Regions from separate parts of the Homo sapiens genome. Here region 1 is linked to region 2. A link means that fine-mapping ties the variant in region 2 to the expression of a gene that starts in the linked region. Tissue or cell type: whole blood. Region 2 holds a variant in brackets; the other region holds the start of a gene. All regions are shown on one strand. Distances are from middle to middle.

Region 1 (5,588 bases), 71 kb before region 2:
CCCGGCTCACATTTGTTCTCAGTCCCATCCAACTCCAGCATCAGGTTGTCCAGTTTCTCTTGCTCCACCACAGAGAGACCCTGAGGGCAGAGCCTCCATCACCCAGGGCCAGGCTGGAGGCTGAGCCCTAAGGCAGAGGGTCCCCTCATTCACACCCAAGCTCACATTTGGCCAGGGTCCAACCAGGTCCCTGTGACAGGGGCCTACCTGGATTAGGGGACCTGAACTCCCATGGGAGCAGGGTGCATTAAGGAAGCTGTTCCCCACCCTTCCCCCTTGTAACCATGATTCCTAAGAGTGGGCCTTCTTTCTTCCCTTCCTCCTGCCCTGCTCCGGGATTCCTTCCAGAACTCTGGCCCTGCTATCCCCAGCAAAGAGCAGGCCTCACTGAGCTGATGAGGGCTGGCGCGATGGTGGAGTTGATGTGGTCCACTGCCTTCAGGACACCTGGGGAAAGGAAGAGGCTGGACTGGGTCGGGCCAGGAGGGGCCGGAAGGGATCAATGGGAGGAGGGGAAGCCATGCTAGAGGAGGACTGGGGACTGGTGTGAGGTAGGGGCATAAGGCTGAGGTGGGGGAGAGTCTGGAAAAGAGAAGGGACCTCACCTTTGCCTAAGTAACGCTGTTTGTCTCCATCCCTCAGCTCCAGGGCCTCATAGATGCCCGTAGAGGCTCCACTGGGCACTGCAGCCCGGAAAAGACCTAAAGGAGGAACATGGAATGAGAGGGAGTGAAGAGGACACAGGGGCCAGGGAGTCCTTCAGCCTTCTGGCTCTAAACTGCCTGCCTACCACATCTAGCTCTCTCCCCACACTGCTCCCTAACATCCCCCCACCCCCACCCCACACACACACTGAGGCAGATGCACAAGAAGTGGCCTCCTCATCCACCCATCTGAGGCCCCACATGCACAAGTGGGAGCCCGCAGAAAGAAAATTGCTTGCAGCACACGTCTGCACACATGCAAGTGCACAGGCAGACACACGGAGGCAGGACATGCCTCACACGCTAAACTCGAACACAGACCCACCTACCCTGGCTCCCCGGACAAGGAGGATCCAACCGCCACAACCCAGGCTTGTGAGCCTGGCCCAGCACCCCATACCCCTGGGTATCAAAAAAGGCCTCCGAACCCCTGGCCGAACCCAGCCTGGCCGTGGAAAAGCTAGGGCTGTAGGAAGGCCCATGCCACACCCATTACCTTTGGCAGTATAGAGATCCACCTCCACTGTGGGGTTCCCGCGGGAGTCCAGGATCTCCCGGGCCCAGATCTTCTCTATGGACATGATGGCTGGGATCTCCTCGGGTGGAAGGGAAGGAAGGAGAAAGATAAGAGGCTTAGAGGGGTGGAGCCTGAGATCAATGGGCGGGGCGGGAGGCTGGGAGGGATGGGAAAGAGGTTACTGCAGTGGGTGGGGGGTGGGTAGGGAGGCGCTGGCTGCAGTCTAGGGCTGTAGAAGGGATTCCCCCTCCCCCCTGGGAAGAGGAGAAGGTCAATGCAGTGAGGAAGGGGAGGTCACTGCAGTGGGGGGCGGGGTAAGATCAAATGATGAGATGGGAGAACACTGCAGTGAGGAGGGGAGGGGCACGACAGTGGTTCCCGCGCCTCTTTGCAGCTTGGCCAGCCGGTGGGGTTCCCCCAGATCTCCTCAGAGCGGAATGGCTGCCAGGCTTGCATTTCTCCTGGGAGCCAAGAAGAGGATGGGCTGCCTGGGCCTCTCTTCCAGAGCCCCCATACCTCCCCAACTTAACACCCCAGCTGCCTGAACACTGCCCCTTCCCCAAGGTCCCACTCTCTCCCAAACGTGTATCCCTCCTCTTCCCGCGAAAGGCGCATGCAATACAGGTGTCGGGGAAGAGGGTCCTGAGAAAGGCCCTGCAGTCCCTGGGGGTTGCAGCGGGAAGTGAAGAGGATAAGAGCCGGTGGGGAGTGGAGGCGAGCTGGGCCTGTCCTCCCCTCTGCGCCTCGACAGATCCCCACTTCTTCCATCTCTCCCCCGTGCAGCAGAGGGGAGGAAGCGCGAACGGAGAGGGGCGCCGTGGGGAAGAGCAGGAGAGAGGGGAGTCCAAGGGAAGTCTGGGGGAGGTGAGGAACGGTGAGAGAAGACATTTCCCCAAATGCAAACCAAAAGGGACGCTCTAGGATAAAAATGCACCGCCCGGAGAGGCTCCCAACTTAGAAACAAATAGAACCGTAGATGAGGGCGAGCACCGGGAGAGAGGCAGGCAAGGGTGGAGAGGCGCAGTTAGAGATAGGCGCGCAGAGGGCCAGAAAGCGAAGGCAGCGGGCGGGGAAGGCCAGGGAGGGAAGGCGCCCTGGGCGCGGGCGGCGGAGCAGGTGCGCAGCTGCACCGGGCCAGAGATGCGGAGAGGTGCGCAGCGGCACCGGGTAAAGGAGGCAGGGGCGCCGCGGCGAAGGGAGGGGGCCACAGGGGCTCTGGGCCTGGCGGGGGCTTCACCTCGGGACTGCAGACTCAGACGGTGGTAGTGGCGGTGGCGGTGGCGGTGGCGACGGCGGCGCTGAGAGAGCGGGAGTGGCAGTGGCGGCGGCGGCTGCGGCTCCCGGGCGGCGGGCGGAGGAGGCGCCTATAGGGCCGCGCGGGCGCATGTGACCCGGAGCCCCCGATGAGTCAGGAGCTGCCGGCGGAGGCGCACGTACGAGCGCGGGTGGGGGACCGACGAGGGTGGAGTGGGGAAGGGAGGAGGATGGGGGAAGGGTGGGGGCACCCACGACCTGGCCCCAGCGCACACAAGCGCTCATACCCACGGCCCGACCCACTCGACAGTAACAGGCAGAGCCGCACCCCTGTAGCCCGGGTACGAAGGCCCACACTGCCAGTGAAGCCCAAGACAGCCTCAATGTCTCACAAACCCGGTCAGACACAGGAGCATCACTCTGTTTCTTTATTGGAAATCCGAACACCCCAGCCGCCTTCGCAAGTCTCTCCAACCACTCCTACCAGCACCCCGCGGCCCACGCGGTCTTGGCTCTCACCCACGCCTGCCCGAGGGCGGCCCCCGGCCTAGGCTCCAGGCAACGCTCAGGCCTAGGCACCCCATTCTGCACCCCACACTGCCCAGAGGACCGGCACAGAGCAGATCCTGGGCCTCAGGTTGTGATGAATTTCCAGCTTTGGGGCAAAAACAGGCATCCTCTGTTCTCTGTCATACATGTGGTGGCTGCCCCTGGGAGTCTGATCAGGTCTGAAGGCCAGCGTCTTTGATCTCCTGGAGGTAGAAGACAGAAGTAAATAGGGACCAGGCGCTGTGGCTCACCCCTGTAATCCCAGCACTTTGGAAGGCGGAGGCGGGCAGATCACGAGGTCAGGAGATCCAGACCATCCTGGCTAACGTGGTGAAACCCCGTTTCTACTAAAAATACAAAAATTAGCCAGGCGCGGTTGCATGCGCCTGTAGTCCCAGCTACTCGGGAGGCTGAGGCAGGAGAATTGCTTGAACCCAGGAGGTGGAAGTTGCAGTGAGCTGAGATTGTGCCACTGCACTCCAGCCTGGAGACTAAGCAAGACTACCTCGCAAAAAAAAAAAAAAAAAAAAAAAAAAAACAAACAGAGGTAAATAAAGCCTCTCCCCTATCTAAAGTGCCTGGCGGCCACCCTCATCTCTTCAGTCTCTTTTTGCCTCACTCTGCCCTCTTTTCTTCCCCCATCTCTGTGTCCTGTTTTTAGCTTCAGATTTTTTGTGCTGGATCTTCCTCTCCTGCTTCTCTCCTAGGTCCAGCTGCATACACCACCAACTTTCCCCTGCAGCCCCTACCATGCACCCACACCTGTCCTTTCCTAGCCGACTTCACTCTGTGTCAGGTATGGCTGCCCCACCCCCCACCAACTCCTCTGCCTGCCACCCCAATTCTTTTCACTTACTCTTCTGGCCTCCTAAGTCTTTCTCAGCTGGTCCCAGGCCCCTTGGGTCCCTTTTCCTCTCCCTGACTCCTAACCCTCCTCTCTTTAAGGGTCCTGCTTGTCTGATGCTTTCCTCTCCCACCTCCTTCTGCAGCAGCTTCCCCTCTTGCCTCTTCCCCTACCTGCCCAGCCCTTGGCCTCCTCCCACTGCCTCCCTGCAGGCTTCCTTACTATCTTTAGAGGCTAGAACTGCTGCTAGATCAATGACTGTTCGGGTTCCAGGTCACGCTGGGGCTCAGGCTCCTGCTCCTTTTCTTCCTTCAGCCTCTGTCGAATCACATCAGCCTCAGCCCGTTCCTCCTCCTCATAGAATTCCTTGTCCAGGCGTTCAAGGTATGGCATCTGCACCAGGGCCTCCTGGCGGTAGCTGGTTTCGTCCGTGCATGGGTTATCAAGCAGCACCAACGCTCGCAGCTTGGGCAGGTCTCGAAGCTTGGCCAGCTCCCCCAGGTTGGCCACCATGTTGCCCCTGCCAGTGTGGTCAGGAGGGGTTCATGCAGGAATAATGGGCTTTGGTTGCCAGTTGCTAGGAATGGGGCCTCTGGGGGACTCTCGGGGTTCCAGTGTCCCTAGAAACACTGTGAGGACTGGCCTGCCAAGCCTTGCCAGATTTACTGCAGAGGTGCTGTGTGACCCCGCTCTGGTCCTGCTTCTGCCCTTCAAGGAATCCCTAAGTGCCATATTCTACTCTGTAATACATTCATGTGTTCTTTTGGTGCAGCAAAGCTAGGCCACAACCCTGTCTTGTAGCTGGGGAGGAGAGGGCAAATTTTCCTCACAGGGAGAGACATTTTCTGTGATCACACCTAAATGGAGGGTAGAAGGTAGGACCCAGCCTGGGCAACATAGCGAGACCCCATCTGTACAAAAGCTAAAAATAAAAAAATTAGCTGGGCGTGATGGCATACACCTGTAGTCCTTGCTACTTAGCTGAGGAGGAGGGATTGCTTGACCCCAGGAGTTTGAGATTACAGTGAGCCGAGATCGAGCCACTGCACTCCACCCTGTAGGACCTAGGTCAGTGGACAAGGAACTGGGATCTAAGCTGGAGTTTAGGGTGGTGGATGCTCGGTTCGTGCTCTCCACAAAGAGAACCTAAGGCTATGGATGGGTTGGAGCCTCCCAACCTGAAGAATAAACTTCATCTCCTAATGTGCCTCATTATATGATACTCTGTTTTTATTTTATTTTTATTGAGACAGGGTCTCACTATGTCACCCCGGTTGGGGGTGCAGTGGCATGATCATAGCTCACTGCAGCCTTGAATTCCTGGGCTCAAGTGATCCTCTCACCTTAGCTTCCTAAGTACCTCCAGGCATGTGCCACCACACCTGGCTAATGTTTAAATTTTTTGTAGAGACTGGGTCTCACTATGTTGCCCAGGTTTGTCTTGAACGCCTGGCCTCAAGCAGTCCTCTTGCCTTGGCCCCCCCAAAGTGCTGGGATTACAGGCGTGAGCCACCATGCCTGGAATTTTATTTATTTTCATGTTCTGGCTTTAAGCTTTTATGAAATCTATTTAAGTGTTTCAGCCTGATCTCATGGTCGTGCTGAGCCTCATGCAGTGTTTCTCACCAGGAGGGCTACAGGAACTTTGTACTGGACTCTGCCATACATTGTTGGATGCTTAGCATCTCTGGCCCCAGAGGCACCTGCCAATCATTGAGAC
Region 2 (6,063 bases):
CTCCAAGCTGATTTGGAAAGCAGTGTGTGCATGCGTGTAAGTGTATGTGTGGGTGTGTGGGTGTGTGTGTGTATGTGGGTGTGTGGGGGGATATGTGTGCATGTGTATGCATGTGTGGGTGTGTGTACGTGTGTGTGTGCATGTGTGCTTGAGCACATGCATGCAGGGATCCTAGACTCGGTAGACTGGGCTCAACCCCTGAAGAAGGCTAAGAGACTGAAAGAGGATTAGCTGTAGGGCAGGGGGTTCTCTGTCAAGAGCTTTGGTTGGGGGAGGGCTGGGATCAGACAGAGAAAGGCTGGAAGCATCTGTGTACTATGAAAAAACCCGAGGGCACCTTGACAGGTGCTGGAAAAGAGAAGGCAACCGTTCATCCTATTTCTTTGCTTCCAGATGAAGAAACTGAGGCCCATGGAGGAGTGACTTGTGCAAGGACACTCAGAAAGTGAGCAACAGAATTAGGATTTGGATTCTGCCCCTGGCCAGTGTTATTTTCATCAGCACCTGGCCTCTTGATAGAGAAGAAGCCATCCTATCTGACCAACTTCAGGCTAGTCTTAGATGAGCCCTAGGCTGCAGTCAGGGCCCTCGGGCCACTCCAGATCTCCTTGATTCTGCCTTGATTCCATGTTTCCCTGAGGCTGTCTTGCCTCTCAGTGGGTGCCCCTGAAATGCCAGGAACCCAGAACTGACTGGACAGTCATGGTCCACAGATCTCCTAGGGCAGGGAGCAGTCATGGCATTGGGCAGTGGAGAGAGGCTGCTTAGAGCAACACTGAGGGAAAACAGTCCTAGTTGGGAACCAAGGGGTACTGGATTCCAGGGGTGGAGTCACCCAGTGACAAGGGACAGCAGTAAGAGAGTCCGAAATGGGAGCTGATGGGGGGTACAGAATGGGGAGGGAGGGCTGGGGAGGGTCCTTCCAGCTGAGGAAGCAGCAGCCAGGGCTGGCCCTTACCCACACGCTCAGACTTCATGGAGTCCCAGACATTGCAGTTGAAGTCGTCGTAGCCAGCGAATAGTAGGCGGCCACTGAGGGAGAAGGCCACGGACGTGATGCCGCAGATGATGCTCTCGTGGGAGAAGCAGATCAGCTCCTGGTCTGCCCGCAGGTCAAACAAGCGGCAGGAAGCGTCATCCGAGCCCGTGCAGATGGCCTCTCCATTGGGGAAGAACTGAGGGCACGGGTGGCAAGTGGGTCAGGGATCAGACCTGGGCAGCCCACAGCCTCTCCCGCCCTCTGCCTCCCACCTGACAGCTCCAGGGCAAGCCGCTGCTCTCAGCCTCCCTGCCTGTCCCTCCCTTGGTTTGGGGTGAGAAGCAGCCCTGCCAACACATACCACGTGCCAGTGACTTCCCTATGCCCCTCGCCCGCTCTGCACTATACAGCGCTGCAGGCAGGCATCATTTCCACGTCGCAGGCAAGAGCACCAAGGCTTGCCTGCAGTGACCCGGCTAGAAGGGCGGACGGAGGTTGTCCCAGACTCCCAGACTACACAAGTGGGCTGGATCAGGGTGTGTAAGAACAGGGTCCAGTACAAATGCAAGGCCTGGATCTCACGGCGAGCAAATGTCAGATAAGCTCAAACGGAGGGAGAGTCTACAGAAAACTGGTTTGTACTCTTCAAAAACGTCAATGACATAAAAGACAAAGGTGGGAAAACAGTTCCAGTTTAAAGGTGGTGACGAAAAAGATATGGCGAGGAAAGGTAATGCACGTTTCTGGATTGGATCCTGGACAGAAAAAAACATGAGCTATTATGGACATTTTTGAGGCTATTGGTGAAATTTGAATATAGACTGTAGACTGTAGTATTGTGTCAATGTTGAGTTTCCTGATCTTAAGAATCATACAGTGATTATGCTACAGAAGGGCTTTGTTTCGGGAAGTACTTAAGGGGTAAAGAAACATGATGTCTGCAACCTACTTTCAAAAGACACAGAAAGAAAATGTATATCTACATCTAAGTGTGTATGTGTGTGTGTATCTATGGCTATTTCTCTACAGAGAAAAAATGATAAAGCAAACGTGATAAAATGGGCTAGGCGTGGTGGCTCATGCCTGTAATCCCAATATTTTGGGAGACTGAGGCAGGAGGATCGCTT[G/T]AGCTCAGAAGTTCCAGCTCAGCCTGGGCAACATAGTGGGAACCCATCTCTACACAAAAATCAAAACATTAGCCAAGCGTGGTCACACGCATCTGTAGTCCCAGCTACTCAGGAGGCTGTGGTGGGAGGATTGGTTGAACCCTGGAGGTTGAGACTGCGGTGAGCTATGATAGCACCACTGCATCCAGACTGGGCAACAGTGTGAGACTCTGTCTCCAAAAAAAGGAAAGAAAGAAAGGGCTAGGGAAGACTGGGCACAGTGGCTCACATCTGTAATCCCAGCACTGCACTCTGGGAAGCTGAGGTGGGAGGATCACCTCAGGTCAAGAGTTCAAGACCAGCCTGGCCAACATGGCAAAACCCCATCTCTACTAAAAATACAAAAATTAGCCGGGCATGGTGGCGCACACCTGTAATCCCAGCTACTCAGGAGGCTGAAGCAGGAGAATTGCTCCAACCCAGGAGGCAGAGGTTGCAGTGAGCCAAGATTGCACCACTGCACTCCAGCCTGGGCGACAAAGTGAGACTCTGTCTCAAAAAAAAAAAAAAAAAAAAAAAAAATACAGTAAGAAAGGGCTAGGGAAGCTATGGGAGGGGCAGAGGATGTGTATTGTATGTGTTGTGGGGAGTGTCGGGGAAGGAGTTGGAGTGAAGCTGGGGTGGGGGGTGCACTCACACAGATGGCGTTGATGTCCGACTCGTGGCCAGTGAAAGTCTGACGGCAGGTCCCCTCTCGCACATCCCAGAGCTTGGCACTGGCATCACAGGCCCCCGAAATGAAGAGATTGAAGTCAGGAGACACAGCCAGGCTCATGCAGTCACCCGTGTGTCCCACAAATACAGTCTTCTGCTGCCCAGTCTCAATGTCCCACAAGGCACTGCCAAAATGGAGGGAGACTGTTAGAGAAAGGCCGGGCCCACTCCCAAGCCCCAGCACCAGCAATGTTCAGCCTCACCACGTGGTGTCCCCCGAGCTGGTCACAATATTGTTGTCATCCAGGAAGCGGCAGCAGGAGAGATAACCTGGAGGCGGTTAGAAGGACAGTGCCCTGGCTGCAGAGCCACAGCCCACTGGAAGCCCAGGGTTCCCTGAACCCCTCAGGAGGGGAGGAGAGGGTCTCTCCCTCACCTGTGTGAGCAGAAAGCTCCCGGCTGACCTTGACATTGCCCTCACGGGATTTGAGGTTGTAGATGGAACACATGTTGTCCAGCCCCCCACATGCCACAAAGTTCCCTGATGGGGCATAGGCACAGGTCATGACCCAGGAGGAGCGCAGTGGGATGGCGTGCACCTGCAGGGAGGGTGGTTTGAGCAGAGATGGGACCGGAGCCAAGCTCCCAGCTGGGCACAGGAGGGTAGGCATGGCGCCCTTAGGAAGGATGCAGTGGTGGAGGCTCAGGGAGGCAGGGCTGGTACCTTGTTGGTGGTGTAGCTGTCCCACACGATCAGCTTCCCATCTTGCGAGGCACTTACCAGCAGCCTGGGGAGAGGGCATCCCATATCATGCAAGCCTCCCCTTCCCGCCTTCCTCACTCCCGCTCTCACCCTCCCATTCTCGGTTCCCCCCCAAGCCTCACTTAGAATCAGTGGCCCAGTGCATGGCGTAAATCTTGGCCAGGTGTCCCCTTAACGTCCGCCGCGTCCGCATCTGGACTCGTCCCACCACCTCTAGGCCAGACACCAGCTGCAGAGAGAGGGGCACTGAATATCAGGGTGAGCAGGTTACGTGCCCAGATGTCTGTCACTGCCACTGATCTATACAAGTTCCCGCTCTGTGCCAGGCTCTAGGTCAGGCCCCCAGCCTTAGAGAAATAAGTCTCTGCCCTGGAGTGTCTTAGACTGATGTGGGAAAGAGATGCATGCATGGCCAGAGGTGTGTTGCTTGTAAGTGTTTAACAAGCACCTCTCCAGTGTTGGTGAGGAAGGTGGGAAGGTGATTTCCACGATACGAATACTTGCACTTTGACCAGTTTCCAGCTGCCAATGTGAGGTCATTGGAAACAGATTTGGGAAGAGATGCACAGAGCTGGCTCTCCCAAGCCGAGAGGAGCCTGCTTGCACCCACCGCTGCAGCACGGCTAGCTTTTTAACTGGGTGCCTGGGGCATCACCATGACCCTGAACTGTACCTCCTGAAATCTGTGGTACTATGCCCCTTGAGCTCTAACCACATTTTAGACTTAGGCTGGGGGTCCAGAGTGAACAGACTTGATTTGCCATCACTTGCATTGCTATCTTTTTTTAAAAAGTTAAAAGCAATTTTTTTTATATTAAGAAGAGATCTCACTATGTTGCCCAGGCTGGTCTCAAACTCCTGAGCTCAAGTGATCCTTTCACGTCAGTCTCCCAAAGGGCTGGGATTACAGGCGTGAACCACTGCGCCCGGCCTGCTTTGTTATCTTGGGCAAGTTGCTTCACCTCCCTGAGTCTGTTTACTCAAGGTGTAAAATGAGGCTTATCATAGCACCTACCTTACAGAGATATCATGAAAATTCAATGAAATCAGGTATTTATGCAGCTTAGCCCAGTATCTGGCTCATAAAAAGTGTTCACTATTAACATATTTAATCCAATCTAAGATGCATCACTAAGAAAGAAAAGATGCTGTCAATTCTAATTGAAACAATGATCCATTGCTGAATGCACCTTGATTTCAGAGATGTCAAAATGTGAAGAAATGTGCATCTTAGAATTGACAAAATACAGCATAGAAAACTAGCAGCTAGAGTCTACAAGGGCTTTATAATTTACAAAGTACTATCGCTTCTTCATCTTCAAGGCCCTGGGAGGGGGCTGTGGTCACTCTTGTTCTACGGATGAGAATAGGAACCGTGTCCGCATCTTTCGCATCCAATATGGTGCCTGGCTCAGAGCAGGTCCCGCTAAAATGTTGGTCGAATGAATTAATTAATGGGTTTCCTCACTCCAAGGACGTGCTGTACTAATGCTCGGAGCAACGCGCTATTGCGGGTCGGGGAGCTCCCTTCCCCTCCCCCCATGCCCTGCCTTCCGGGGGACAGGGGGTCTTACCTCTGCCAGAGTAACGTCAGCACAGGCTTTCCTGGCATCCTGCAGGGAAAGCAGACATCAGGGGAGCAAGGGCGAGGTGGGGGTGGCAGGTGCATGGGCCTTCAGGGCAGGTTGGTCTTGGGGCTCTGGGGCTTGGGGGTCTCAAATATGCGAACCAAGTTTAGAAAGTCCCTGGTCACTTCTAGTCACTCAAGAGCAAACCCAGCCCCCTCCCCCTGGGCCACGCTCCTCATGTCCCCAGCTGTTTTCTGGGGCCCCAGGGGTAGGGCTCTGGAGTTACTGCAATCTGCTTCTTGAGCTGCTCCGCTTCCTGACGCAGTTGCTCCATCTCCCCCATGGCTGACAGGTCGAGGGGTCACTCTGGCTCCTGCCAGGAACATGGGGTCGGTGTTGAGGAACCCCCCACCAGGCTGTGCTTCTGCCCTTCGTGCCCACACCAGACTCCAAGACACAGGGAAACGACTGGGTGGCTGCACCCTCTCCCCAGCTAGGCCCTCCAAGTTTGAGGTCCTTTGCGTCCAGCCCCAGCCTGCCTGAGCCCTGCCTGCGCCCCAGCCCAGGAGAGCAGAGCCCAGGCCAGCTCCCTCTTACTTGGGCTCTGGCTGGACCTCGGCCGGGTTTCCAGCTCCGGTTCCTGGGAGCCTCCTTACTCCCTCAGCTGCGACGCCCGCGCCCGCCCGTCACCTGCCCAGGCTCTGCTGCCAGAGGAGCTGGCCTGGCCTGGCCTGGCCCCGACCGGCGGGGGGTTGGGGGGGCCTGACAGGGAAGGGTAGAGCCAACCACAACGTCAGGCAAATGAAATCAGCTGGCAGGGGTGGGGGGAAGGGGTGGGGGGAGGGAGGGAGGTGTACGGATTCCAGAGAGACTTGGGCCCAGCCGGGAGGAGGGTTGGGGGCAGGAGTGTGGGGCCATAGAGAGGGGCAGCCC

The links. PIP is the estimated chance that this variant, and not a neighbour inherited with it, causes the effect.
Region 1: ENO2 starts here. The variant in region 2 is fine-mapped to the expression of ENO2 in whole blood (TOPMed, PIP above 0.99).

The regions. Positions count from the first base shown.
Region 1 is chr12:6,911,530-6,917,117 of GRCh38, reverse strand. It overlaps ENO2 (enolase 2), which reads right to left and starts at 2,538. Exons shown (of 12, transcript NM_001975.3): 1 at 2,459-2,538; 2 at 1,201-1,297; 3 at 606-701; 4 at 389-447; 5 at 11-80. The coding sequence starts at 1,285. It overlaps LRRC23 (leucine rich repeat containing 23), which reads right to left. Exons shown (of 8, transcript NM_001135217.2): 7 at 4,091-4,388; 8 at 2,889-3,227. The coding sequence ends at 4,115. RefSeq lists enhancers at 906-1,545, 1,546-2,187, 2,866-3,035, 3,066-3,135 and silencers at 2,544-2,734, 2,266-2,755.
Region 2 is chr12:6,840,698-6,846,760 of GRCh38, reverse strand. It overlaps GNB3 (G protein subunit beta 3), which reads right to left and starts at 5,836. Exons shown (of 10, transcript NM_002075.4): 1 at 5,728-5,836; 2 at 5,417-5,503; 3 at 5,137-5,175; 4 at 3,685-3,791; 5 at 3,524-3,587; 6 at 3,236-3,398; 7 at 3,063-3,129; 8 at 2,783-2,984; 9 at 959-1,175. The coding sequence starts at 5,473. It also overlaps a transcript of CDCA3 not described here. The variant G/T (reference allele first, on the strand shown) is at 2,107.